3 linked regions of the Homo sapiens genome follow. The protein of the gene in region 1 interacts with the protein of each later gene in a pairwise test. Each region holds a gene or a part of one and is shown on either strand. Other genes may lie near its edges. The genes, in order: GNL3L, ROPN1 and DCDC2.

Region 1 (10,036 bases):
TTTGTTTGTATATATCCTGAGCTTCCAGAAACTCCTGTCTCTCTAGGAATTCCTTGAGCCCCTATGAAGGTGGTAAGAATTAAAGGGAGCCATTCTTCCCAATAGGCCAACTGTGAACGGGTTGAGAGATGGGACTTCTTATTGAAGAAGGGGAGAGGCCTCATAAGTTCTTGGGCTTTGCTAAGTCATGATTGGAGAAGTGGTAGATCTCTTCTTTTTGTATCTGAGGGAGGCGGCAGCATTTTGGCTGAGTAGGTCAAGTCCCTTTGGAGGCAATGGCCTGAGCAGGGTCAGCAGGAAGGATGGTTCTTTCCCCACATACTGAGGGCATCTGCCCAGGTTTAGTGGGCTGGGACTCCTTAGATTACCTTCTCATTCTGCCAGCTCCCTCATCTCAGCCTGGCACTTAAATTGTTGAGTTTCCCCCAGTAGGAAGTTCTGGGGGAAAGAGGAGTCACAAGCACATATTCAGGTTTCTCTCTGTACAGAATTCCTCTCAGAATTATTTGAGTTTGCAGTGAAATAATGTGCAAATATTATATCCAGTACTTCCTCTGATACTATTGCTGCCATCCGCATCTCTTGTCTTGTGCTGGATCTAGACAGACATGGTATCTGAGGCTTCCTAGCTAGGTTCCCAGTGTGGCCTGGCCTTGATTCAGATGTCAACAAATATCGTGTAGATGGATGACGGCTCTTTTCTTTCTTTTTTTTCTTTTGTAGAAAATAAAAAGCCAGGTGAAGGTTCCAAGGGCCACAAGAAGATAAGTTGGCCCTACCCTCAGGTAAGGTATGCCTGTTGTTGAGGGTAAGGTCAAGAACAGGTTGCTTGTCCTGGGAGAGGCCCACTAAACCCAGTAAATATTGGGTGACTCTGGACAGAGTGCCACATTGGAGTCAGTGGATCTGGCTTTCCCTCCTTCTCTGGGTGGCCGCAGCAGAGAATCAGCAGCATTTTTCCCAAGTCATATGCAGCTTCGTGCTTGATTTACCTTGGTAGGGATTATCATTATCCCCATGTTTTAGTTGAGGAAACTGTCAGTGAGAAAGTTCCTAGGTTCAAGGTAACGCAACTGGGATTTGAGACTGTCTGATTCTCAAGTCCCTGTTTCTTATGGAGAAGAGGGAGGCCAAAACATCATCTTTGGTTCCTGGATCTCCTGGTCCTGCTGGGAAAGGTGTGGGTAAGTAAGGCTTGGGAAAGAGCAATGAGAAGAAGGTATAGGCCAGAGAAGGCTTGGGTTCTCACAATTTAGCATGGGTGAAGCTCTCAAACTTTAACCAGTCCTCTAGAATCACCTGGAGGATGGGGGAAAACATCGATTGCTGGGCCCCACCTCAGAGTTTCTGATTCAGTAGGTCTGGCATGGCATCCCATGATTTGTATTTCTAGCAAGTTCCCAGGTGCTGCTGCTACTGCTGGTCTGAGGACCACTCTTTTGAGAGTCACTTATCTAGAAAGGTTTTCCCTGGGCCTTGGGAAACCTTCCCAGCTGCCCTTCCCCTCTGAGAGGTCTCCTGTCAGTCCCTGCCTAGCTATAGGAGAGAGGACCTCTACCCAGCCAGATGGGCAGATCTTTGGGGATGGAGCCCTTTTTGCTTCTCTCCTTTCTTTGTCCCCACAACTACACTTATCTGAGAAGCTTTAACTCCTGCTGCTCACCTTGGGAGTGAGGGGATGAGAGGATGAGAGGATTGAGAGATAGAAGGGGCATTTATGAGGGGATGTTGTCTTCCTTCTAGGGCTTCTTGCTGCCTTTTTGAGGTGATTTCCATGGGTTCATTACCTCTGTTTTTTTTCTCTTATGTGGTGGCCAGCCTGCAAAGCAAAATGGGAAGAAAGCAACCTCCAAAGTGCCCTCTGCACCTCATTTTGTTCACCCCAATGATCATGCCAATCGAGAGGCTGAATTAAAGAAGAAGTGGGTAAGCTTTTTGCCTTGGTGGGGAGAGAGAGGGCCTGCCTTGAATGCCAGGTCCGCAGAAGTGTTGAATGGAAGGGCAAAGGCAAGAGTTGTTAGGGTTGTTGAGGCTATTTGTGGAAGCCGGGAGAGAGGGAGGTTACCATGATACTGGATTTATGTCTGCGTTTGTTCACCACCCAGTCCATTGCTGTCTGGCTTATGCTTCCACTGCTCTGCTGACACTGCCCCTGCTGGCCTCATCAGCGCCTTCCCTGACATCACATTCATGAATAGTATTCTTCCCTCATCTTATTGGAATGCTCAGCATTTGAGGCTATGCTTTCTTTGAAGCATGTGGACTTTCTTGTCATCTCACTCTCCTGGATGTCTTTCTTCTTTGACTAGCCACTGACAGTCTCTTTTGCCACTTTTTCCCCTTTCTTATCTTTTTTTTTGAGATGGAATTTCACCTTGTTGTCCCGGCTGGAGTGCAGTGGTGTGATCTCGATTCACTGCAACCTCTACCTCCCGGGTTCAAGCGATTCTCCTGCCTCAGCCTCCTGAGTAGCTGGGATTACAGGCATGCACCACCACGCCCAGCTAATTTTGTATTTTTAGTAGAGATGGAGTTTCACCATGTTGGTCAGGCTGGTCTTGAACTCCTGACCTCAGGTGATCCACCTGCCTTGGCCTCCCAAAGTGTTGAGATTACAGGCGTGAGCCACCCTGCCCAGCCTTCTTCCTTATCTTTAAATGATGAAGCATCCCAGGACCTTGGCTTCTTTCCATCTCTGGTCTTAAGTGGTTCCGCCTGCCTAGGATACATTCTCTCTCTGCTTTTTATACCCTCTTTTCTCTGCAACTCTTTCCTTCCCTTCATCTCTCTTTTTCTTCTTCTCAAACCCTCATCTCCTGATGTCATATCTTCCCTCTCCCTGGACCCTGCTCCTGCCACCTCTGCCATGTCGCACCATTTCCTCTGTCTGTCACCCATCCCTCCCTTAGGCTGCAGACCCAGTCAGCTCCAGTACCAGTGTGTGTTCACTTGTTAGGTTGAGGAGATGAGGGAGAAGCAGCAAGCCGCCCGGGAGCAAGAAAGACAAAAACGCAGGACCATTGAGAGCTACTGTCAGGATGTCCTAAGACGCCAGGAGGAGTTTGAGCATAAGGTAAGAGTGCAGCCCTTGCCCCTGGGTAGGTTTGCTCAAAGCATCTTTTGCCGTTTTTCTGTGAAAGGGAAGAAGGTGTGAAGTTGTTGGAGGGGAACAAGGGAATCAGTGTAGAGAGGATAGAAAACCATGGGGACGGACGAAGGGAGGGAGGGAGGGATAAAGGGAGATAAAGGGCCATTTTGAGCCTTACCCGTGACTGGACACCTCTGGAGAGCTCCTCTCTCCCAAGGTTGAGCCTGAAGACTGGGGCTGGTGGCGGAGTTGGGGGCTGGGAGAGTTACATGTGACCAGGGGATGGGGTTGGGGGAGAGGGAGCGAAAGTATGAGGAGAGGATTGAGAGACAGAGAGGAGCATATGTGAGGGGATGTTGTCTTCCTTCTAGGGCTTCTTGCTGCCTTTTTGGCAGATGTTCTTGTTTCACACACAGAATACACGCTTGCCAGCTCATACTCCCTTTTCTGATATGCAGTGTGTATGCCTCCCCCATCCTGTGTCCCTCATAGATTGTTTTTTTCACACCTCCCTCCTCCATCCCTCCCTTTCACACCCATGTGCACACTCAGGTCTCCACCTGGTGCTCGAGCACACGTATACACATAGGCGCACACATGAACCATGGGGTTCTGTCCATTTTTCTTCCAGTTCCCAGCTTTATTGGTTGGTCAAAGCTACTTTTTGGTGGCCTGAGACTCACATGATTTATTTTTTAAATTATTATTTTACTTTAAGTTCTAGGGTACACGTGCACAACGTGCAGGTTTGTTACATATGTATCCATGTGCCATGTTGGTGTGCTGCACCCATTAACTTGTCATTTACATTAGGTATATCTCCTAATGCTATCCCTCCGCCCTCCCCCCACCCTACAACAGTCCCCGGTGTGTGATGTTCCCCTTCCTGTGTCCAAGTGTTCTCATTGTTCAATTCCCACCTATGAGTGAGAACATGGGGTGTTTGGTTTTTTTGTCCTTGAAATAGTTTGCTGAGAATGATGGTTTCCAGCTTCATCCATGTCCCTACAAAGGACATGAACTCATCATTTTTTATGGCTGCATAGTATTCCATTGTGTATATGTGCCACATTTTCTTAATCCAGTCTATCATTGTTGGACATTTGGGTTGGTTCCAAGTCTTTGCTATTGTGAATAGTGCCGCAATAAACATACGTGTGCATGTGTCTTTATAGTAACATGATTTATAATCCTTTGGGTATATACCCAGTAATGGGGTGGCTGGGTCAAATGATATTTCTAGTTCTAGATCCTTGAGGAATCGCCACACTGTCTTCCACAATGGTTGAACTAGTTTCCAGTCCCACCAACAGTGTAAAAGTGTTCCTATTTCTTCACATCCTCTCCAGCACCTGTTGTTTCCTGACTTTTTAATGATCGCCATTCTAACTGGTTTGAGATGGTATTTCATTGTGGTTTTGATTTGCATTTCTCTGATGGCCAGGACTCACATGATTTTTTAAGCCTCCTATAGTTTAAAAAGCCCTGCTTCTCTTTCTCGCTCTCTCCCCCTCCTCCCCTGGACCATTCTCTTTTTTTTTCTCCTTTAGGAGGAAGTTTTGCAGGAATTAAATATGTTTCCTCAGCTGGATGACGAGGCCACGAGGAAGGCTTATTACAAGGAGTTCCGTAAGGTACAGGGTTCCATTTCTTCAGGCTTTTGCGGGAGGGTTCCAGTCCAGCCCCTTTTCCTCTCCATTTCTGTTTTTTCCTGACTGAGATGGAGATTTTTGTTTCACAGGCCTGCATCACTGCTACCCTATCCTTTTCCTGCCCTCATCTCCTGGTCCTCTGCCCTGCAGGTGGTGGAATACTCTGATGTGATTCTGGAAGTCCTGGATGCCAGAGACCCATTAGGCTGCCGCTGCTTCCAAATGGAGGAGGCTGTCCTGCGAGCACAAGGCAACAAGAAGCTGGTCCTGGTCTTGAACAAGATTGGTGGGTGTTAGGCAGGATTGGGTGTGACAGGGAAGGTGGGCAGGCCATCTTTAACGTCTAGCTTGGACCAGACACTGAACCCAGCAACTCAGTGATACTCATAATAGTCATGCAAAGTAGAAATTTTTGTTCCGATTTTCAAAGCCTGTATCACAGAGTATGGTACAAGTTAGGTGTGGAATCCAAGCCTGTCTGCCTTTCAGTCCCCTGTTCTTGCCATTTTGAGCCTTCTCTGTTTTTGGACAACCCTGGAGAGTTCCTCCTCCCTCAACTCAAAGACTGGGGCAGAGGAGCACATGGGCTCAGGAGTCACTCATGTCTAGGGTTCAGCCTCCCACCTGTCCTGATTCTTTTCTCTGAGACACTGGATAAGTCATGCCACCTCCAAGAGCTCCTGTTTCTCTAGCTGTAAAATGGGCCATGGGTATCCCAACCTCACAGATTTGTTGTAAGAATTAATGATAAAATGCTTGGTACATGGTGGTCAGTACTTCACACATGATAGCCATTCTTTTTAGGGTTATCTTTGTCATTTGGCCCAACCTAGAATGATCCAGAGAGGGGATAGGAAACACAATATTTGGGGGGTCTCTGATGCTCCTGGCGCTGTTTTGGAAAGAGAACATTTGGGACCAGATAGCTAGTTTGTCCATTTTCCCTGAGGGAACAGAGGCCCCTTCAGGGAGGGCTAACGCATCCCGTAGACCAGACTATCCTTTCTAACTCCAACCTGCGGACTGGATGGGAATGACAGGGCCAGTTGAGAGACCTGTTGATGGTAGGTGGGCCTAGCTTTGGGTACGGGTGGAGGTGTCTTTGGAGGGAACCATGGAGGTGTTGTTCTGCTTACCAGCCCCATCTGTTCCTATATTTACCCCAGACCTGGTCCCCAAGGAGGTTGTGGAGAAATGGCTGGATTACCTTCGGAATGAGTTGCCAACCGTGGCTTTCAAGGCCAGTACCCAGCATCAGGTCAAAAACCTGGTAAGCCTGGGGCTAGGGTCATCTAGCCGCTTTCAGGGTAGTTTGGGGCCAGAGCTGGGAGGGTCGTGACTTGGACTGGGACCTCCAGCCCTTTAGTAATTGAACTGGGCCTTCAACTTTGAGCTTTTTGCTCCACCGAGTGACTTTTTTTTTTTTTTTTGAGATGGAGTTTCACTCTTATTGCCCAGGTTGGAATGCAATGGTGTGATCTCGGCTTACTGCAACCTCCACCTCCTGGGTTCAAATGATTCTCCTGCCTCAGCCTCCAAAGTAGCTGGGATTACATGCACGCGTCACCATGCCCTGCTAATTTTTGTAATTTTTTTATTTTTAGTAGAGATGGGTTTTGCCATGTTGACCAGGCTGGTCTCGAACTCCTGACTTCAGGTGATCCACCCACCTCGGCCTCCCAATGTGCTGGGATTATAGGCATAAGCCAACATGCCTGGCCAGTGACTTCTTAATATTAGTTTCACTTGACTTCTTCCTGTATTATCACTCTTCAGGAAGCATTTCTTTTTTTTCAGTTGTAAGGATAAAACATAATGTCTATAGGGAATTTGTAAAATACAGTTAACTACTTGTTTGTTTGTTTATTTATTTATTTGAGACAGAGTCTCACTCTGTTGCCCAGGCTGGAGTGCAATGGCATGATCTTGGCTTACTGCAACCGCTGCCCACCAAGTTCAAGCAATTCTCCTGCCTCAGCCTCCCAAGTAGCTGGGACTACAGGCATGTGCCACCATGCCTGGCTAATTTTTGTATTTTTAGTAGACACGGGGTTTCGCCGTGTTGGCCGGGCTGGTCTCAAGCTCCTGACCTCGGGTGATCCACCCGCCTTGGCCTCCCAAAGTGCTGGGATTACAGGCGTGAGCCACCACTCCCGGTCTAACTTTATTTTTTATTTTTTGAGACAGAGTCTCACTTTGTCACCCAGGCTAGAGTGCAGTGGCACCATCTCGGCTCACTGCAATCTCTGCTTCCTGGGTTCAAGTGATTCTTGTGCCTCAGCCTCTAGAGTAGCCAGGATTGTGGCTAAGTTTTGTGTTTTTTTTTTTTAGTAGAGATAGGGTTTCACCATGTTGGCCAGGCTGGTCTCGAACTCCTGACCTCAGGTGATCTACCAGCCTTGGCTTCCCAAAATGCTAGGATTATAGCTGTGAGCCACTGTGCACAACCAACTACTTGTTAACTTTAAAAAATACGTATACCTCCAATCATTTTTCTCTTTGAAACAAATCACAGTTCTTCCCAATTATATCATTAATAGAGAAATATGTATGGTTTGTAAAATATTAATACAGAAACTGATTGTTTCTGGGAGAAAAATTGGATACTAAGGGACATTTTTTTTCAATTTTGCATTGGATGTTAAACTTATTTAAAAATAAAGTAGAAAAAATAAAATTAACTACAGATAAAGCTTAAATACCCTTTCACCAGTCTCCCTAATTCTAGTCTCCTTTATTCATGCCCAGAGGTAACTACCATTGACAGTTTGGTGTGCATTCTTCCAGACTTTATTTATTTTAGATACAGATATTTAGGGTCTCAATTGGTCATCCAGGCCTCAGTGCAGTGGCGTGATGATAGCTCATTGCAGCCTCAAACTGCTGGGCTCAAGCCATCCTCCTGCCTCAGCCTCCTGAGTACCTTGGACTATAAGTGCATGCCACCATGCCAGGCTAATTTTTATCTTTTTTATTTTTGTAGAGATGGGGGGAGGGTCTTGCTTTGGTGCCCAGGCTGGTCTTGAACTCCTGGCCTCAAGTGACCCTCCCATCTCAGCCTTCCAAAGTGCGGAGATTACAGGCGTAAGCCACTGCACTCGGCCTTCTTCCAAATGTTATTCTGTGCTTTGGATATACATAGAAGTGTATATATAAAGAGGGAATACTGTTTGGAAGTATTATGTATATCATTCTGTGGCTTAGTTTTTTTTTTCTCTTGGACATCTTTCTATAGAGATGTGCCTTTTCGAGGCTGAATACAATTAGTTTCCAGTTTTTTATCGTTATAACCTGGGCTTCCACAAATACCCTTGTACATGTCTCCTTGGCACATGGGCAAGTGTGTGTTTGTAGGTGAGGTAGAGAAAGGGAGTGGCTGGGTCATAGCCTTTCTGCATTTTACCTTTACCTAGACACTGATGAATCACCCTCCGTGATGGCTGTACCAATTTATACTCCCACCAGTGGGGTAGATGAATGTGTGAGAGGCCTCTTTTCCTACACCCTTGGCAACATTTGATAGCATTAAACTTTTAAACCTTTCAGAAACATGATACCTTATTTACATTTTCTTGGCCTTTTTAAAATTTAAATTTAAATTTTTGTTGAGATGGAGTTTCACTCTTGTTGCCCAGGCCGGAGTGGGATGGCACGATCTCGGCTCACTGCAACTTCTGCCTCCTGGGTTCAAGTGATTCTCCTCCCTCAGCCTCCCGAGTAGCTGGGATGACAGGCATGTGCTACCACGTCTGGCTAATTTTGTATTTTTAGTAGAGACAGGGTTTCACCATGTTGGTCAGGCTGGTCTTGAACTCCTGACCTCAAGTGATCCACCTGCTTTAGCTTCCCAAAGTACTGGGATTACAGGTTTGAGCCACCGTGCCCAGCTTCTTGGCCTTTTTGATGGCAAAAATAGAAGCCGCCTTTTCTTTCTTTTTTTTTTCTTTTTTTTTTTTTTGAGATGACGTCTCACTCTATCTCCCAGGCTGGGGTGCACTGGTGCAATCTTGGGTCACTGCAACCTCTGCCTCCCGGGTTCAAGTGATTCTTCTGCCCCAGCCTCCCGAGTAGCTGGGATTACAGGTGCGTGCCACCACACCCAGCTAATTTTTGTATTTTTAGTAGAGACGTGGTTTTGCCACGTTGGCCAGGCTGGTCTTAAACTCGTGACCTCAAGTGATCCGCCTGCCTTGGCCTCCCAAAGTGCTGGATTACAGGAATGAGCCACAGCACCCGGCCAGAAGCCACCTTTTCTAACAGCTGTATTTCATTTGTATTCCACTTTAAGGCTACAGCTTTTTAACCTGTTTCTTATTGATGGATATATAGGCTAATTCCAATTTTGTGATATTGGAAACAATGCTGTGGCTGGGCGTGGTGGCTCATGCCCGTAATCCCAGCACTTTGGGAGGCCAAGGTGGGCAGATTGCTTGATGCCAGGAGTTTGAGACCAGCCTGACCAACATGGCGAAACTCTGTCTTTACTAAAAATACAAAAGTTAGCCGGGTGTGGTGGTGCATGCCTGTAGTCCCAGCTACTTGGGATGTTGAGGCATGAGAATCGTTTGAACCCAGGAGGTGGAAGTTGCAGTGAGCCAAGGTTGTGCCACCACACTCCTGCCTGGGTGACAGAGTAAGACTCTGTCTCAAAGAAAAAAAGTAAGGGAAGAGGAGGGAGGGAATTCTGGGCAGAGGAAGTGGCATCAGGAGTAAAGGTTGGGATGGCTTTGTCCTGTGTGAGGAATTGAGGGAGGGTAGGCTGTGGGCCAGGCTCCCTCTCATCCCTGCGCAGGCAGGGAGGGTGGGCATCCCTGTTGTGCACACAGGGCACTGAGGCCTGGAGAAGGGAAGCAGGCTTTGCTGGACATAGGCCTGTGAGAAGTAGACCTGGAGCTCAAACCTGGCCTATTTAGAGCCAGGATGCCATCCTGCCACTGCCGAGGGAGGCAAGTGACATGTGTCGAAGCAGACGCAGGGGCAGAGGAGACTGGAGACACAAAGACAGTGGAGGGGAATGGGGAAATGACACGTGTTCAAGATCTGTGTGAGAAGCCTTCCGTTTCAGGCTGAGGAGCTCAGTGATCATAGGGAGGCCCTGAAAGTTGGAAATCTGGGCTCAGACCTCATCTGCCACCTGATGTCTCTTCTGTGATATTCAATTTTTTTTTCCAGAATCGTTGCAGTGTGCCAGTAGATCAGGCCTCTGAGTCACTGCTGAAAAGCAAAGCCTGCTTTGGAGCTGAAAACCTCATGAGGGTTCTGGGGAACTATTGCCGCCTTGGTGAAGTGCGCACCC
Region 2 (10,312 bases), on another chromosome or scaffold:
CGTGTCCACACAACTCACCCTGCCTCCCAGTGACAAATATTCTCCTTTCCCCCCACCCCAATCACTCAAATCCTTAAAGAAGTAGACTTTGATTAGGTAGACATTTTCATTTATGTGGAATTTTGTGGTTTGTTTCTCATAATTGAGTGGTTATAGGAGGTGTTGCTCTCCTAGGTTCTAGAAAAAGACTACACACAGAGGTAGCAGGAAGAGGAGGGGATCCAGAACCACAATGAGTAGCTGTGCTTGTCGTCTCAATGGTTTCAACTCTGAAGAGAGGTAACGGACCTTCCCATCAGTTTCTTTCATAAAGAGGCATATTGTGGTAGGCAGGATTCTAAGATGGCCTCCAACATTTCCACCCCCTGGTGTACATGCCCTGTATAATCTCATCATCGCTGTAAGTCTGGGTGAGACCTATGAATATGAGGAGATTTCATTCCTGTGATTAATATTCTGTGGCAAAAGAGAACTTTCAGATGTAATTAAGGTCCCTAATCAGTTGACTTTGAGTTAGTCAAAAGGGAGGTTATCCTGGGTGGATCTGACCTAATCCAGTAAGCCTTAAAAAACAGACAAAAGAAACAACAACAGGTGCCTCTGCTGGCCTGGAAGAAAGCAAACATCAGTGTCGTAAACTGCCATTCCAGGGCCATGGAACTACGACGTGAAAGTGGCTTCTATGAGTTGAGAACAATCCCTGACCAAAATCCAGCAAGAAAATAGGGACTTCAGTCCTACATCCCCAAGGAACTGAATTTTGTCAACAACCAATGAATATGGAAGAGGACCCTAAGGCTCATATGAGAGCACAGCCCTAGCCAACACTTGGATTTTAGCTGGGCAAGACCCTTAGCGGAGGACCCAGCTAACCCACTCAGACTCCTGCCCTGTGGAAACTGAGATCAGAAATCTGTGTTGTTTTAAGCTGCTAAGTATGTGGTAATTTGCAATGCAGCAAAAGAAAACAAATGTATATGTGAAAGGAGTTTATGTACACAGGGTTGACTGGCTCCACGGGGAGTCTAACAACCACACCCCACAGCTAAATCACAGAATTGTGCTGAACCTGAGTATGGTGTACCCATCATCACTGCTCAGCCCCAGCCTCACCATGATCCAAGCAGCAGGTGGGACAGGGTCACTCTCGTTTCCTCCTATGAAATGGCACATTTAAGATCTGGGGAAAGTGACCCACAATATAAGCCACATAGGATAGGGAGAACTGACTCTCTGAGCTCAGAGATAGTATGAGACAGTTGATATTTATTATAAGGCTGAGATGGTAAGAAGACCGTCAGGATTCCCACTCTCTGGTGCCAGACCTATGGTTACTTGGCCAGATAGAACTTTAGTCCCTAAGATACTGAACATGCAAAGCTGAATGGACACTAAAGTATCATTTTTCAGAAGGCCCTCTTAAGGAAGGAAGGGGAAACAAGGTGGAAGGAGAGAAAAAAAAGGAGAATTTAATTCAGTAAACAAATATTTATGGTACCCATTATGTGCACAGTTCTGTTCGAGGCTCTCGAAATACAGCGGTGACTAAAACAAACAGAATCGCATGCACTCCAGTGAAAAAATATAGAGAAATCAATAAAACAAAAATTTAAAAATACATAGTATGTAATGATTATAAAGCAAGGGAGGAGTTGGAAGGGATATTGGTGTTCAACTTAAAAGAGTCAGATAAGACTCCCTTAGAAGGTCACATTTGGATACAAAACCGAAGGTGCTAAGGAATGAACCCTGTGGATACCTGAGGAAATCATGTTCCAGGCAGATGAAATGCAAGTGCACAAGTCTTGAGGCAGGAGAGGGTCTGGCCTTTCTGAGGGATAATAAGATGGCCAGCATGGCTGGAGGGAAGTGATGAAGGAGAAAAGAGAAAATGATGGGTTCAGAGAGTTTAAGGGCCTGTGGGTTATTTTGACTTTTACTTGCATAAGGTGGGAGCCACTGAGGGTTCTAAACAGAGGAATGACATGATCAGTCTTAGGTTTTCAGTAATTCGATCCTGCAGCTGTGATGAGAACAGACCCCTGGAAGGGAAGGGCGGAAACAGGGAGACAGGTTAGGAAGCCATTGTAGTGGTCCGGGTAAGAGATGAAGTTTGCTTGGACCAAGGTGATGGAAGTGGAGAGAAGTGCTCCAATTCTGAATGACTTTTGGAGATACAGCCAATAGCATTTGCTCTGATTGGATTTAAGGTGTGAGAGAAAAAGCAGCCAAGGATAATGCCAAGGTTTTTAGCCTCTATGAGGAAGCCTGGAGGAACTGGTTTGGAGAGGAATCTTAGAGTGCAGTTGGGGTGTATTAAGCCTGAGAAGCCTAATAGACATCCAGTGGTGCAGAGTAAACAGTTGGATGTTCTAATGTGGTATTTAGGGAAGGATTAGGGCTGAAGACATAAATGTAGTATCCAAAACATGAAACTGGATGAGATAAAAAAGAGAGTGCATGTAGATAGAGAAGTCCAAGTGTAAATCCTAGGGCACTCCAAGATTAAAGTGCCAGGGAGAGGAGGAAGAACAAGCAAAAGAGACTGAGAAAGAACAGCCAATGAGGAAGGAGAAAAACCAAGAGTCTAATGTCCTGGAATCCAAGGAAAGAAAATGTTTCAAGCATGTGAAAGTGATCAACAGGGTCAAAGGCTGCTGATAGGTTGAGCCGAGGCTGAGAGATGATTTTGGATTTAACAGCATGTCATTGGGGACTTTAACACAAGTCATTTCAGTAGAGTGGTGGGGATGAAAGCCTGGTTCAAGTATATTAAAAAGAGATTTGGAAGAGGGAAATTAGAGGTGGCAGGTATAGGCAACTCTTTTAAAGAGCTTGGCAATAAAGGGAAGCAGAGAAAATGGTCAAAGCTGAAGAGGAAAATGATGAAGGCATGTTTTTATGTTGATGGGAATTATCTAGTAGAAAAAGGGAAATGATGAGAAAGGATATAGTCAATATTCGTTCGTACAAGAAAATAGCAGAAAACAGTGTAACCTACTTGATAAAAGATTGTATGTAATAAAAGATTTTATTGTAATATTTAAGACAGATTTTTTACTGAAACATAATAAACACCCATGAACCCATCACCCACCCCAAAACTAGACCACTACCAGTAACATCTATGTGCTCCTCCCTCTCTACTCTTACCTCTGTTTTAGAAGAAAGCAACTTTCCTGAATTATGTTATTATCATTTTCCTGTAAAATTGTATTCTCTTGACTGTATCCTGTTATATTTATTGACTAACAGATCAAGGATAATCTAACCTAGGCCTCTCAACCTGGCCTCCTACAGACAGACATCAAATCGCCTCAGTCAGACAGTCCCATGAAATTCCTCCCTTGTGTTTAACTTGCTACACTAAAATTCTATTCTGTTTCATCTCCCATCTCTAGCTGCTAGTGCTTTGTCTGAAAAACCCCTTCTTCTGCACAAAGATCATTATTATTCACTCCTGTCAGCATTATTTACTCTGCATGAAAGCAGGAAGAGATTGGCACACCTTTATCCCATGTGCATACAACAGAACAGACCCCAGTGGCCAGAGCATTCTTGTTATCCTGGAAGATGCACCTGCAGCCCTCAAGCCTCCAGCCTCCCCCTCCCAACCTAAGGCACACCCTGTTTGTCAAGTGCCTATACCAACACCTGGCAGCCCCTCCACAGAGGCCTCAGAAAGGCAGGTGATAGCTAGTGACTAGGTTTCTTTCATCCCCAGATCTTGCCCTGTGGGCAGTGGCCATCCCCAGACCATCCAGGATTCTCCAGGTGTGCAAGGACCTACAGGATTTTGACAAATGCCAGCAGAGTGGCCTCTTTACAAATGGATGACAACAGGCTGTGAAAAGCTTTCTGCATGCGTAACCCAAAAATCTAGTTCCCCCACTTGTTCACTGATGCTTAAAATTGCTTTAGGGAGAGACAAAGGCTTTCATCTCACAAACAGAGAAAGCTTTGAAGGGCCTGGGTGAACTAATCTATTTAGACTAATACACACTGTTGTATAAATGGAATGAAGGATTAGATGATGCAATGGGCCCCTTTAAAATAGGTGTGAAGTGACACGGGATGTAGCAGAGAAAGATGGGGCTTTTCTTGCCTCCTTGGGTGCTTAAAACGAACAGTCTTGAGACCAGGTGCGGTAGCTCAAACCTGTAATCCCAATACTTTGGGAGACCAAGGCAGGTGGATCACTTGAGCCCAGGGATTCAAGACCAGCCTGGGCAACATGGCAAAACCCCGTTTATAAAAATATAAAAATTAGCCTGTCATCGTGGCAAGCACCTGCAGTCTCAGCTACTTGGGAGGCTGAGGTGGGAGGATTGCTTAGACCTAGGAGATTGAGGCTGCAGTGAGTCATGATTACCCCATTGCACTCCAGCCTGGGCAACAGAGCAAGACCCTGTCTCAAAACACACACACACACACACACACACACACACACACACACACACACACACACACAGTCTTGAAACCGGAAGACCTGGAGTAAAGTTGGGCCCTGAGCCCTACTGCCAGCTGTTCGATCACAGGCAAAATTACTCGAAGCCTTGAGCCTGTTTTTTATTTCCAAAGCGAAGGTAATACCTACCTTCAGAGTTTACTGTGAAACTTTGATGTCATCATGTTTGTAAAAGTGCCCTGGCACAGTGACCACATTCTACCCTATAAATATTTTCTATCTTTCCCTGTTGTCCCCAGGCATCTCAGGCTCTGTTCCTATCCACTCCATGCCCCTTTCTTAGCATTATAAGGTCAAGAGTGAGGAATCTGGGACCACGCAACCCAGATTCAGATCCTGACTCTGTCACTTGCTGACTGTCATCTTGGACAAGTTTAACCTCTCTGTGCTCAGTTCCCTCATCTGTAAAAATGGGGATAACAATAGTACTTGCCTCATGGGGTGACAGTAAGGATGAAATGAGTTCATGTGTGTAATGCACTTAGAACAATTCCTGGCACCAAAAACTCATTGTAAGAAGTGTTGTTACTATGATTCCTGAGGAATTCTCACCTGTCCACTTTCCACAAGCCGAAAGATCAAGCTCCACTTCTGCCCTCTCACCTACAAAAGCGCACCGTCAATGGCTACACATTCCGCCCCACCCCCAACGCCCCCAGCCCGGGTTTCCTAACGTCCCCAGCCCAGTCCTTAACCCTCCAGGCCGTCTGGTCCTTCCACCACCAGCAAAGCCCAAAACAGCTTTCAGCGTCCCCTAGCAGCGCCCTAGCGGGACCCTGGGAACCCGCCGCTGCAGGAGAGGCGGGGCGGCTCTGTGACGTCGCGCCCGGCGCTACCCCTGGTGACCTGGCAGCGGAGCCCGCGCAGGGTTTGCCAGGCGAAGGCGGAGCGCTAACGTCTAACGCTAACGGCGGTCGTGCCCCGCCGCTGCTGTCACCCCCGGCCGCTGCTGCCCTCCCCGCCGAGGTTCTACTGCTCTCCTTCTTAAGAAGGGTGGGAGGCACTCGGTCTCTCCCCACACCTCTCGCCTGAGGCCAGGCGCCAGGTGTCGCCTGAAGCCAGACAGCCGGTTTGGGAGCGAGCCTGAGGTAGCCACCCCGAGGGGAAGTGGAGGGAGGGCAGGGCTCTGAGCGCCCCGAGGGCTGCGCTGGTCTGAGGGAGGAGCCCTGCCGGACGCCCCCTGGATTCTGAGCCTCTCCTTGTTCACAGGGCAAGGGGAAGGCAAGGGGATCTTCAAGAGAATGTGACTGTGGGGGATTATGGCTTTCTGGCCAATTTGTGTGCGTATTTTGTACCCAGAATACTATTATACGGTTTCTTACCCGGAGGACAGTGGTTGGGAGGCTCAAGAGTTTGGAATCAGAGCCCTCCACCGAGGAGCCACACCTCTGCTTTTTCATCAGCGACAGGGATATAAAAATACCTCTGGGTGAATTGTCATGTGGATGTCATGGGCATACCTAGCACTTCATAGACTCCTATCACACATTATTTTATACCTAGCACTTCATAGACTCCTGTCAGGCATTATTTTATACCTGGCACTTCATAGACTCCTATCACATATTATTTTATACCTAGCACTTCATAGACTCCTATCACGCATTATTTTATACCTAGCACTTCATAGACTCCTATCACGTGTTCATTTTATAGCTAGCACTTCATAGACTGCTATCACGCATTCATTTTTACTAGTACCTATTGAACACTAAGTTCCAGGCACTGGGCTAGGCACTGGGATGGTGTGGTGAGCAAAAACTGACCAGTCCTGCCGTGGAGTTTGCTGGGGGAGACACATGTTACTCAAAGAATCACACTAAGGATAGGTAAGTGATGCTCTGGAAGGGTATGTACAATGGAACTGACAGGGTAATCAGGGAAGGTTAAGCAGACCTCCAAAGGAAGAATCAACCTGTTAAGAGGAGGAGAATGTATTCCAAACAAGAGTAACCACATCCCAAACCCACCATCTCCAATTCCAAACCCAAACAGGGATGTGCAGTTGCCTGTGCTTGGTTCCAAGTGATACTCATAGAAACCCTCTGAGATTCTGCCCTGGAGCCTTTCATTCATGTTACTGGAGACTTTCATTTATGAAACGGAAGCCCTGTTTAGCCCATACCAATAAAACCAAGTGAGAGATCCCTGAAACAAGGCTATAGTCTATTTTAAGACCTACATTCTTCAGCACTTGGCAGGTATATGTTGGCCTCCATTTTACATTGAGAGGCATGTAGGTTTCACTTAGGAGGAAATGCATTGAATTGAAAGAGTTGGGGTTATGGATAAGCTCTGGAATGTATAATTGAAGAAGACCTACACTATCAAGAGATTTAAAAATGGAAAATAACTTTACAAAATGTTAGAATTGAGGAATGTTAAGATAGAATGGACCTTTCTCCCACTTCTTTGATGTGAACAAATGACCCTTATTGCCCAAAGGCAGGAAAGCTGGGCTTTGGTGCCTCTTCAACTCAGAGAGTCTATGATTTCAACTCTGTGATTCAAAAGTGCATGGAACTCCTGAAAGTAAATGGGAACATGGGGGGATAATTTGACCTGACCCTCCTTTAGTGTTTTCTATTTCTACAAGGGTACCACCACTGTGCACCCAGTCATCCAAGCTTGAAAACTGATAGTCACTCTAGACTTTTCTGTCCTTCACCTCTTCCTCCTTCTCCACCTTCTCTTCTTCCTCCTCCTCCACCTCCTCTTTTCTTCCTCCTCCTCCTCCTTCAGTAGTTACCAAATCCTGTAGATCCTATCTCCTAAATACTTGTCTCTTATATCACTCCCTATTGCAACTACTTTTCAAGGCAGTGAAGCTCCTGGGAGTTGTCAAAAGTGCTGCCATATTCTCCTAACCTGGCTCCCTGCCTGAAGCTTCACCATCCTCTCTTCAGCTCATCCACACAGCTGTCAGTCAACGTGTTTCAGAGTCCAACAAAGAGAAATAAATCATATAGTAATTTTTTGAGCATATAATTTAACAAGAGAAGTTCAATATAAAGAATTGTTAATGATGGGATTGGAGTAATGAAGGATTGGCTAATATGTCAGGAGAGATCTAAAATATACAGGAATCACAGATATAAGGGGCAACCACTACCCCTGAGATAGATCACCCAAGGAAGAAACCTTTCCCAGAGCTTGGTGCATAGGGGATGGCCACAGCTGACTGGAGAGCAGAGAAATTGCTGAGGTGCCAGGCAGGCAAAATTTACTCTCTGAAACACCAGAGAAGCCATTCACTAAAAGGTAACTCACTGACAGCACTCTGCTATAGAGCTTCCCAAGAGAGGTGCCAGGGGACACTGCTAGCCATGGAGCACTGATAGCCACTGTGTACTCCAGCAGTTGGGCACTCAAAAGATCACACACTGCATGAAACAGATGCTAGAAAAGCTGTGTGCTACAGGATCCCAGCATAGGAGAAACTACAAGTTCCTGGAGCCTAGCAAGAAGAGCATACCTAAATTCCTAAGAGAAACCTCTTCCTCCTCCAGTCCTTCCAGTGCCCTGTCCTAACAAAGCATATCCTTATGACAGCTGACAAGGGAAAAAATGTTAAAGGACCTAGTTCAATTTTTGTGGAGGAGGCAATACAAGGTGAATTTGGAGCTGAGAGGCAAATATTGATAACCGGACCTAAAGCTAACACTGATTGTGTGACTCTTGTGCTTAAATTTTCTAGTGGTTCCCCATTGCCTTCAACAAAAAGTTCAAAAGCCCAAGCCTTGAGCTATATTTCCAGCCTTAGGCCCAACCACTCCTGCTTTGTCCACTTTAGAGCTCCATAATTACAGTTCCCTGAACTTGTCACGTTTCTGACAACCCCACATCTTTGCCTAAGTCCTTCTACCTACATGAAATTCTCTCCTTACTCTCATAAGTACACATATGCTTACTGAATACCTGCCCTGTACCCGGCTGTCTTCTGAGGGCTTGCAGTACAGCAATGAACAAACCAGGTTTTTCCAAGTCTCAGTTCAGATATCTCAGATATCACCACTCTTTGAAAAGTATTTTCTGACCTCCTTCTAATACCTGCAGATGTTAGATGCCTCATCCAAGAGTTTTTCTTCTGTTTTTCTTCTGTTCTTCTATATCTAGTGCAGGCTTCTTGACACTTATTATACCTTCTTTGAGTCACTGATTTTCCTGTCACTCTCTTCCACTGGACTGTGAGCTCCATGAAGCAGAGTGTGTGACTTATTTATTCATGTATCCCAGTATTCAGCACAATTCCAATAAAACACATAAATTTTGTCAGATTAATGATTTCCTAAGGATCACATAATTAGTCATAAATAGACCCAGGGCCAAAATCCTGGACTCCTGCCTCACAGTCAAGAGTGCTTCTTCACTACAGCTTCATCTGCCCTCTAGATGTTATGCCACAACTAGCTACGAAGGATAGCAGCCCTATGTTTTGCTTTGGAAAAGGCCAGTGCAATGCTGAATATCATCAGGAATGGTAATGGAAACTGAAGAGAAACATAGCCCTAATCTTATATTGGAAACTATAGTGCATTCACCCCCTCAGAGCCCTTGCTTGTAGGTTTTAAATCTCTGACTCACAGGAATGCTATAATGAAATCAGAAGTAGGAAGGACAACTTCTGATTGTCCTTCTGACCTGATTGTCAGCCTGACCAACATGGTGAAAACCCGTCTCTACTAAAAATACAAAAATTAGCCAGGTATGGCAGCACACACCTGTAGTCCCAGCTATTCAGGAGGTTGAGGCAGGAGAATTGCTTGAACCCAAGAGGTGGAAGTTGCAGTGAGCCAAGCTCATGCCACTGCATTCCAGCCTGGGTGACAGAGCAAGACTCCATCTAAAAAAAAAAAAATGTAGGAAGGACAAGTAAAAGATGAAAATGGTGTGGGGTATTATGACACTTACTCTTAATAAAGACTTTCATACTCTTATATAAGACAGGGCTAAGGTGACCCAAGTGTGTACACCAGGTCCCCAAATCAGGGAACCATGTTGCACAACTTTACAGGACATAGTTTACATGCCAGTCTGTAAATGAGCCATGTGTCCCTAGAATTGTGGATGATGATGCGAATGAACACGAGGGAAATCTTTGAAATATGAGCATGGCTTAGATAAACCAAAAGAGGTACCTATTCATTTGTTAAATAATAAACATGTAGAACTCATGCTTTCAAGAGGTAATACTAGCATGATATATAAGCAAGTTTGGGAAATTTGCTAATAAAGCCAAAAACTACTACTCAAAAAAAGGACAAGGTCAAGTAGGACTGCTCTTAGCAATATTGCTGTTGGCATCCAAATGCTGTGTTGACTTGGCCATGGGTTTGTCTCAGGATAGAAAAAGATCCAGGCTTCTGTGAAACACAGTTGAAGAAGGAAAGTTAATACGAATAAGGCAAATTGGGGAGATCTTGAAAGTCAGACAGGGCATAATTTTTATAAGAAAAGAGATGAAGATCCATTAAACGTTTTTCAGAGTTATGTAAAAACATGAGTGGTTAAGAAATTTTATTGGAGGGCAAGATGGCCAACTAGACGCAGACAAGTGGAACAGCTCCCACAGAGGAACTGAGATGACTGGAGTGCTTTTAACATGTCTTCAGAGGGAAGGCACAGACAGTGGACAGAGGGAAGGCACAGAAGCTTGGCTGAAGGGGGAGAAAGCTGGGAACCCCATACAGGCTACCATACACTGAAGCTCATTTTTGAACCACAACAGCTCTGGGGGAACGAGTGAGTTGAACTAGCAAGGAGCAACCTGCTCTCACCAGGGTCCACTGGAACCCTGGAAGGAGGGGACCCCTCAGTCACCACAGAAACTTGAGGTGGCAGGGA
Region 3 (10,036 bases), on another chromosome or scaffold:
TGCATTCTCCTGGGAACCAATTCATTAAAGGAAAGGAGTAAATTAATCCTGTTAAAAATCGAGCTTGTGACTTTGGATTTACTGGCATAGGAAGTTCTGTGTGGCTCAATGCCAAACATTCACACACTGCCTAAGCCGAGTTTGTGAGAACCTACCAGGCACTGGGCACTGTGCCAGGGGTTATTCTCCTCTACTCAAACGTGACCTCCTGAAAGAGGCCTTTCCAACCACCCAGCTGAAATAGCACCCTCTCTCACTTCCTCTTCCCATGTCTTCATGTATTTTTATTCATGTTTATCCCTGGTGTATATCACACGTATTGTGCATTTGTTTCTGGAATGTAACCTCCGTGCATTTAGTACTTCAGAATCTCTGGGCCCTGAAGCACCAGAACAGTCCCAGGACATCATATGAACTCAATAAATAGTTGTTGGATCAGCGAATCAGTCAATGACAATATACTCAAAGAAGAGTTATAATAGATGTCCGCCCCCACTGCGGCCACCTAGCGGACTCACCTATATCACATACCTGTACGTGTCCCACTGCCTCCTGCTTCTATTCTTGCCCCAAACCATTTCTCTAGAGATACCACAGCCAGAATGAGCACTTAAAAATGTAAAGCAGGCCAGGCGTGGTGGCTCACGCCTCTCATCCCAACACTTTGAGAGGCCGAGGCAGGTGGATCATGAGGTCAGGAGTTCAAGACCAGCCTTGCCAAGATGGTGAAACCCCGTCTCTACTAAAAAAAAAAATACAAAAATTAGCCAGGCATGGTGGCGGGCGCCTGTAATCCCAGCTACTCGGGAGGCTGAGGCAGGGAATTGCTTGAACCCGTGGGGCAGAGGTTGCAGTGAGCCGAGATCATGCCACTGCACTCCAGCCTGGGCAACAGAGTGAGACTCTGTCTCAAAAAAAAAAAAAAAAAAATTTTTTTTGAAGCAAATTATATCACTCCCTCCCTATAACCCTCAAATGGCACCCCATCAAGAAATAAAATCCAAACTCTTTGCATGCCTATATGATTGAGCCCTGCCTGCCTCTCCGATTTCATTCACGGCCTTCTTTCTGCCCTCCTCACATGCCAGGCTCTTTAGCAAGGGCCTGTGTGACTTTGTTTCCTCTGCCTTGGATGCTCTTCTTCCCCGGCCTCATCCCTGGCACAATTGGCTGTGTTAGATATCATTAAGGTCTCAGTTTCAGACAATTTTATATAAATCAATGCCCTGCTACATTTTATTTTCCCCATAGCATTTATCACCATTTGAAACTATTTGTACATTTGTTTACTAGTTGATCGTCTGTCTACTCCCATTCATCCCATCCATACCCTCCCCCCCACACACACATACATGCACACACACACACTAGAATGAAAGCACCATAAATCTAAGTCCTCATCTATCTACCACTATACGCTCAGTGCCTACAGTTCCTGGCACTTAGTAGGAGCTCAGTGAGTATGTTTGGAATGGATGACGGATGGAGTGGATGAATACAGGGTGCTACGGGAACACTGTGGAAAGAGGGACAAACTCTGCTATCATTTTATTTTTCTAAGTCATAGCATGGAACTACGTTTGACAACTTTGCTTTCTATGGGATGCAAATATACCTTATAACTGAGTCTTTGCTTAACGTCACTTCCTCCATGAGGCCTCCCCTGACACACCTATCTAAATGTGTTTTTCTTTTATTGTCTTTCATATTACTGTGCACTTTTCTTTCATTTTTATACTTCATAAGTATCCATTGATTAATGGAATCGCTTGTTTCACTTTTGTCTACTCAAGTAGACCACGAGTATCAGAGAGAGCATCAGATCTTTGCGCTCATTGCTGTATCCCTGGGGCTTACTACTGTGCCATACACCTGGAAAATTCAATCATCAGATGAATTGATGTGATGACATTGATGTATCACAGTATTCACAGCACAGTCTAAAAAACTTACAAATGAGCAAGAAATAAAAATTGCATGTGTGTACCTACACATGCATTTTAAAGCAGGAAATGCTCTACACATTTTTAATTAAAATTTTAGTTTTTCAAATTTCAGAATACTAAACATATCATTCCAAAGTTCAGTCACTGTGAATACAAAGAGTTGGGTCATGACTTTGGTCCTGACATCGACTTTCCCTGTGACTTGGGATCAATTTATTGATCAATTTATTCAATTACAATCGGTCTCTGTAATCATTCCTCTAGCTGCACTGTGAGAATTAATAAGCTAATATCTATACAGTACACAGAAGGGATTCTGCTACAAAGTCCTAAAGAAAAACAAAAAAAGCAAAATACAATTTCCAATCCCTAAATTCATGAGTTTTATTTAGCTTTATAGTTGCTCTGATATTGTTTTCACCTCCTGAAATATTCTTCTCACTCCTCTTTGACCCCGCACCTGTGAAGTTAGGTTGCCTCAAGCCTGGGCCCTCTGTAATTCTCACCGCACCATCTTCCTCTAGGAGCCCCTCATCCATTCTCTCACTTGGCAGCACCAGTGAGACCTGCTCTGTTCAAGCTGTGCTGGGTGATGAAGTACCACAGTGATGCTACGTCTGCTGTTCAACTAGGACCATTACATGGTTGTTCAAATCTACAACTCAGGCCAGGTGCGGTGGCTCACACATGTAATCCTAACACTTTGCGAGGCCAAGGCAGGCCGATCGCTGGAGCCCAGGACTTTGAGAACAGCCTGGGCAACAAGGTGAAACTCTGTCTCCACAAAAAACACAAAAATTAGCCAGGCATGGTGGCACATGCCTGGAGTCCCAGCTACTCAGGAGACTGAGGTGAGAGGATCGCTTGAGCCTGGGAGGTCAAGGCTACAGTAAACCATGATCATGCCACTGTACACCACCCTGGGTGACAGAGTGAGACCCTGTCTCAAAAAAAAAAAAAAAACCACCTGCAACTGCAGCTTCAGTCCTGATGTCCTTGGCAGGCCTCAGCTCTGCCATTTACAACTGCTTGCAGCACACTTTCAACTAAGTTTCCTGATGATACTTCCAACTCAACATGTTTGAAATTACGTAGGTCATTCTTTGCCCTGGCTGCCTTCTTCTTGGCCATAGAACTACCATTTTCTCAAATTCCAAGCTTAAAAACCTCAGTTATCTTTGGCCCCAATTTCTCCATTAACCCCTTGTATCCAATCATCACACAAATCCTTTGTTCCTTGGTTTCTTCCAGAATAATCATCACTTCCTGCTGCCTCTACCACCTCCCCAGTCTAGGCTCCTTTCCCCTCATACCAAGATAGTTGCAACTGCCTTACAACCATCGACTTATCTATGGCTTCTCACCACGTGAAGTCTTCCTCCATGTAAAAGATCTGATGCTCCCAAAATGGACTCAGATTAATATTCTCACCTCTCAGAAGCCCTTGTGGGCTGCCCTCTATTCAAGGACAAACACTAGACTCTTCATTCTGCTATTCAAGGTCATGTAATAACTGTCACCACCTACCATGTCAGGCACATCAGCCCCCACACCAAAAAGGACCATCTGTTCCAGTCAGCCTAAGGGACTCATTGTCCCGGGGCTCGGGAGCAGGAGCTCTGAGCTGGCTGTGTGGATGCAATTCCTCCCCTCCTCCCCTGCCATTTGCTCAGTAGGAGCCTTTGTTTGTATTGTATTGTATTTTATGTTATTTTGTTTCATTTTTTTGAGACAGGGTCTCACTCTGTTGCCCAGGCTGAAGTGCAGTGGGGCAATCTCTGCTCACTGCAACCTCTGCCTTCAATGGGAGCCTTTGAACCTGTCACTTCTACTCTGTGTACTTCCTTTTTTCATTCCTTTTTAAATGTAGATGACAAAGATGCCTGCCTTGTGGGGTGAGGTTAAATAAATCACTACTGTAAAGAGCTTGGCATAGTGTTGAGCCCACAAGGGCCCGGTAAATGTCAGCCAGCGTGACTGCTTCTTCGCATGCCCACGTCTGCCCCAACCATCTCACCCTCCCTTGGATCTGAAGGTCCTCTCCCCTCATCTACCTTTTTCTGAATTTTAAACAGTTTCAAAGGCAGAGCTCAAATTCAACTTCCTCTGTGGACTGCTGCCATTGTACATTCAGTCCTTCCCTCCCTCTCATGGTCACCAATCTCTAGATATTTGATGTTTAGCATTAGCTTGTTTGTTGCCTTTTTAAGCTATCTTCTTTATTTCAAGTAGATTGTAAGTTGCTTGAGGGCAAGAGCTCTATTGATTTTTATTTTATTTTTGTCATAATAGTATAAGAGTCTCAGCTAATGAGTTCTTAATATCTGTTATGCTGAGTTCGGCACTACTTATGTACACAAAATTATTTGTCTTTCTTTCAAGAATTTCACATGATATAACCAAAAAAAAGGAGGGATCTAAATCATTAGGAGACAATATCATTGCCTAGAAATCATTTACTTTACAAAATACCAAAATAAGAATGTTGCTTAATTAATTCAGGGTGTGGGTGGAAGATGTCAAATCAGTTCTGATCACAACTTGTCGGGCAATTCAACCAAAAGGGAAGAAAGAGAAGCCTCAGCCAGGAAGAACTGCCAAGGCAACGCTCTGGCATGACATGGAGCTCACCCCATCAGGGAGCGCAGACTGAAAACACAAGAAGGTTAGGAAATTACCTACTAAATGCTGTCGTTACTCCCACAGAGTAGGTATTTAATAAATGTTTGCTGAATTAACAAACCATGAATAAATGATAAATGGAAAAGATTCAGATGGCAAACTAAATACCTAGAACAATTCTCAATCTTTTCAAGGAATATTAATGAGGATTATACCCCTTTTCTCAGCGAAACTTCCCTTTTAGTCTTCGTTAAAGATAGAAACCAAGACTGGATGATCATTGATGTGACCTACTACAATGGTTCTTACAGTTTAAAGTATTATTGCCAAGATTTTAAGTGCAATATAAATTATGTCAGGTGTATATACAAGGAAAAAATTTTAAAATACATATTCTAAAAAATGTTAGCTCTGTTTAGGACCATAAGTGTAACATTAAAGTTCTAGTGCTGTTTCACATAATTGGTTATACACCACGAAGCGGCTAAGTTTTATCTCTTGGAACTTAATTGAAGCCCAAAGGACAGTCTCTTTGTATCATATAAAAATATAGAACATCAACGAGGAAAGCATCTGATACTTACACTCCCTTTAGACTTTCTGGATCCTACAATAGGAGGTAGTGAAGAAGCTTTCTGACTGTGGAAACAAATTGCAATTTAGAAATCTGAATGTTGTTTACAAATAATGTACAATGCAAGATAATTATCATCCCCACCTGGAAGTCAACTGTTTACTGCTGTGTTTCACAAAAGGTAGATAACATACACTTTAACACATACTTTCCCAATTTCACAAAGATCATAACATTTCCAAATTCCATCCCAAAAGATTTGTAATGTTTTCCTGTATAATATTTTAATCAATGCTTACAAGTAAACTTTTAGTATCACCTGAAATTTGTATAGCATTTTTATCCAGATCCCAAAGTGTCCTATTTGCATTTCAAAAAATCATTTCCAAATGTGAATAATGATTTTTCCAGACTGAGTTAAAAACAAATTTCCTTCGTTTCTATGATGTCTTCTATGTCTACCTCTGATAGGAGAGCAGAGGTAAAACACTGGCATTTGCATTCAGGTAGTTTTTAAACAAGTCGTCCTCACCAAAAAGTTAAAAATTATTTTAGGCTGTAAGAATAAGTTGTTTTGTTGATATCTGTATTATTAGGAAAAGACCCATCTTGAAACCCAACTGAATCTCTCCAAAAATAGAAGGACACATATATAAAAAAAATTCTTATTAATTGTATGAGAAAGGCCAACGTGAGTTACAGTTTTCTTATTACCATCAGGTACACACTGTTGATCACAGCAGGTTAACCTAGGGCTGCTTAGCAAAGATGGCTAAAGATTTGATTTCATGGATGGGTAAGGTTGGTTAGCGATAAGTCAGCTGGTAAATAATTCAAAGGTGCTAGAAAACCATGTGCTCTTGCATAGTTCAAACACCACCCCTGAAATTCCACTTCATCTATTACTTATTTAGAAGCTCTTGGCCAGCCTCTCCATCAAGTTACACAAATTGTGAATTAATTGCAAACACACTGGTGATATTCTGCTCTACTTCTGCGGACGACAACCAAAAAAAATTTTTTTTTGCAATGGCAAGGTGGCCACAGAATCTCTGGGAAAAGCAACAGAGATGGATCCCTGGGCACCATGAGCAAGCCGAGAGATCCTGCAGCATGGGCCAGAGCTCTTCTTTTTTTTTTTTTTTTTTTTTTTTTTTTTTTTTTTTTTTTGAGACGGAGTCTCGCTCTGTCGCCCAGGCTGGAGTGCAGTGGCGGGATCTCAGCTCACTGCAAGCTCCGCCTCCCGGGTTCACGCCATTCTCCTGCCTCAGCCTCCCAAGTAGCTGGGACTACAGGCGCCCGCCACTACGCCCGGCTAATTTTTTGTATTTTTAGTAGAGACGGGGTTTCACCGTTTTAGCCGGGATGGTCTCGATCTCCTGACCTCGTGATCCGCCCGCCTCGGCCTCCCAGAGTGCTGGGATTACAGGCGTGAGCCACCGCGCCCGGCCCAGAGCTCTTCTTGAGTGACTCCGCAGTGTATCTCCTAGGCTGAAATAAAGCATCTTTCACAAATATATGACATTTCATGGAGAAAAACTGTTTACGGTATATTGTAATTAAAAATATAATCCTTAAAATTTTACATGAATTAACTGTACACCCATCCTCTCTATTTGCATAAGTGGGATTATGTTGTTTTTATATTTTACAGTTATTATTAAAACAAGTATAAAATATTATGAGTTTTTTAACACTCTTGGATGTTTCTATCCAAACCAACTGAAAAGTTATTTGGTCTAGCAACTATTAAGACACAAAAACTTCTAATAATGTTTGCTGTAGAGAAGCTCATTGCCCTGTATCTTCTTCACAATAATAAATTTTTGCATTTACTTATAAATTTCATGCATGCTAAAAAAAAACCATGTAGTCTTTCATAACTTCCCAGAAATTATATTTTTGTTCAATAGCTTTCAGTCTCCCATCATGGCAATAAAAACAAAGATCAATGTATACCATATATGCTTTCCATTCTAAGTAATAAATAAGATTATCAATTACATAAAATATAATGGTGGTCAGCAAAAGACCCAATGCTATTTCAAGTGGTAACTAAAGCATGAGGAGTGGTAAGGAGTAAGACTTACCCAAAAGGCCTTCTCATCGTTGACTTGTCAAAAAGTAACTCACTGTAAGGCAGTTTCTTAAACTTATCTCTGCCAACAGCCACATAAAACTGCCCATTCTCCAACTCTGCTCCACTCTCAACAAGTTTTCCTTCTAAAGTATAAAGCCTGTCGAAAATATGAACACCAACAATTAGAATTTTAACCAACATTTAAAGAATTGCTTAAGATTACAAAGTATTCTGGATGTCAAAAAAATTAAAATTACATAGTAAATAAAAACATTCTGTACTTAATTTAGCTCATTTGTTACTATCCTCATTATTGCATTATAGATGCCTCAAAGTTATCAGATTCCACTAAATACTAATGTTATAATGCAGATACAATGACTATCTTGCTGTACAGGGTTTCACCCCAGTGAGTCTGATGATCTGGCATAAGGATCCCTATTGCTGCCATATTAAAATTTTAGAGGAGAAAAATTAACTTGTACAGATCACAGTGCTTTAAATAAAGCTCTGTTTCCATTGAACATTGATTCTTCTATTTATATTTTGTTAATACTTTTTTTTTTTTTTTTTTTTTTTTTTGAGACGGAGTCTCGCTCTGTCGCCCAGGCTGGAGTGCAGTGGCAGGATCTCGGCTCACTGCAAGCTCCGCCTCCCGGGTTCATGCCATTCTCCTGCCTCAGCCTCCCAAGTAGCTGGGACTACAGGCGCCCGCCACTACGCCCGGCTAATTTTTTGTATTTTTAGTAGAGACCGGGTTTCACCGTTTTAGCCGGGATGGTCTCGATCTCCTGACCTCGTGATCCGCCCGCCTCGGCCTCCCAAAGTGCTGGGATTACAGGCATGAGCCACCGCGCCCGGCCTTGTTAATACTTTTAAATTTTATTTTCTTAGCATATTCATCAGGCTGGCAAGCTTCTGACCACATTCTGTGTAAGAACAGCCCTCAACCAAAATATTACATACAAACACACAGAGAACCGGGTCAGGAACAATGGGGTGAGAGGGCAGGAGGTAAAAGAACCCATTGCCAGTGTTAATGATGCAGAACTGCATAGCATTTGTGCTTCTTTCTTTTTTTTTGCCGTCCCTACTAAGCAAAACAAGAGTGAACATTATATCTTCCCAGAATCGAGCAGTTTCACAGTAACCTTCCTTTACTGTAAAACTGCTGCTACGAGCTACAATTAATATGTTACTTATTAAAAGAACAGTCATAATTTTACCAGATGATTTTAAATGTCCACAAAAATTTTTTTAAAGAACAGGAAAATAAGTATTAGAAAACTAAACCAGAAAGACAGTGCATATTTTTTAAGGTTATAAGCAAGAGCTATTAATAAATGGAAGGATTTCAGTATCATCAAAAAGCTTTCTGTCTTCCTATATTACATAATAAGATTAAATGTCATTTACAGACGCAAAAAAAAAAACCCATTGACCTGTCAGCTTGTTTCCTGATGACATAAATGGCCATATCATACAGAACCATGAAATACAATGAAAATAGCCACCAATAGCCACCAACATTCCTGAAATGTATTTGTGTTTTTAGTTAGTATACAGATGGTAAAGTCTCTTTCTTTATAACATTGTACCTCTACTCCTAACAAGTCTAAATATCAACACTTAACCCAGAATTCTATGTTTTTTGCCTTAACTTAAGCTGGACATGGTGGCCTATGCCTATAGTTCCAGCTACTTGGAAGGCTAAGGCAAGAGGATCGCTTGAGCCCAGGAGTTCAAGACCAGCCTGGGCAACATAGTAAGACGCTATCTCAAAAAACACTTGACCAGGGTTTCTGAATACTGGCATTATTGACATTTTGGACCAGATAATTCTTTGCTGGAAAGGTGAGTAGGCTGCCCTGTACATTGTAAGATGTTTATTAGCAGCACCTTTGGCCTCCACCCACTAAACAGTAGCAGTAGCCACCCCATCCCCAGTTGGGACTACCAAAAATGGTTTCAGGCACTGCCAAATGTCCCCAAGGGGCAAAATCATACCTGCTTGAGAGCCAATGGCCTATATCCAAGCACTATTTTTCTACTTTTCTTCAAAATAGTTATATCTCAATCAGTAGTAATTTCATAGCTAGAAATTAAAAACCAGCATAGCTGTGGACTCTGGAAACAGCCAAGATTTGACTTGTTTCCTCTGCAGGTAAGTAAAACGCAGTGAATAAATTCTTTTTGTTAATAGAGACAAGGTTTTGCTATGTTGCCCAGGTTGGTCTCGAACTCCTGGGCTCAAGTGATCCTCCCAAGGTGCTGGGATTACAGACGTGAGCCACCACACCTGGCCCAGCACTGAATAAATTCTAATTCATGATTTTAGCCTTCTTTTATATAACTGTTGTTGCTCTACTTTCTTCTTTTGCTACAAACACAAGAAACATAAAAAGCAAGTTCAGTAAATTTTTATGGGATGCTTTTTATATATGAATATACTGATGCATAGGGAGGGGCCAACCATAAGATTTATTAACGTTAAAGGAAAACGGTCATATCCCAAGAGAGCAGCAACCAAATCTCTCATATCTGCCATTACATTAAGAATTTCACCTATCCTAAATATATACGCACCCAACACAGGAGCACCCAGATTCATAAAGCAAGTTCTTAGAAATCCACAAAGAGACTTAGACTCCCACATAATAGTGGGAAACTTCAACACTCCACTGACAGTATTAGATAGATCATAAAAGCAGAAAATTAGCAAAGATATTCAGGACCTGAACTCAACCTTGGACAAAATGGATGTGATAAACCTCTATGGAACTCTCTATCCCAAAACAGAATATACATTTTTCT

What was found.
Region 2: the proteins of GNL3L (region 1) and ROPN1 interact in binary tests that used the Homo sapiens proteins (3 or more experiments, as listed by UniProt).
Region 3: the proteins of GNL3L (region 1) and DCDC2 interact in binary tests that used the Homo sapiens proteins (3 or more experiments, as listed by UniProt).

What each region holds. Positions count from the first base shown.
Region 1 is NC_000023.11:54,538,317-54,548,352, forward strand, and holds part of GNL3L (guanine nucleotide-binding protein-like 3-like protein), read left to right. Parts: intron 1-723; coding exon 724-785; intron 786-1,818; coding exon 1,819-1,926; intron 1,927-2,956; coding exon 2,957-3,073; intron 3,074-4,638; coding exon 4,639-4,722; intron 4,723-4,890; coding exon 4,891-5,026; intron 5,027-5,906; coding exon 5,907-6,010; intron 6,011-9,912; coding exon 9,913-10,036.
Region 2 is NC_000003.12:123,987,166-123,997,477, reverse strand, and holds the start of ROPN1 (ropporin-1A), read left to right. Parts: upstream 1-5,353; 5' UTR 5,354-5,556; intron 5,557-6,119; exon of another isoform or gene 6,120-6,297; intron 6,298-10,312. UniProt on the Homo sapiens protein: Important for male fertility. With ROPN1L, involved in fibrous sheath integrity and sperm motility, plays a role in PKA-dependent signaling processes required for spermatozoa capacitation.
Region 3 is NC_000006.12:24,283,700-24,293,735, forward strand, and holds part of DCDC2 (doublecortin domain-containing protein 2), read right to left. Parts: intron 7,380-10,036; coding exon 7,233-7,379; intron 5,208-7,232; coding exon 5,153-5,207; intron 1-5,152. UniProt on the Homo sapiens protein: Protein that plays a role in the inhibition of canonical Wnt signaling pathway. May be involved in neuronal migration during development of the cerebral neocortex. Involved in the control of ciliogenesis and ciliary length.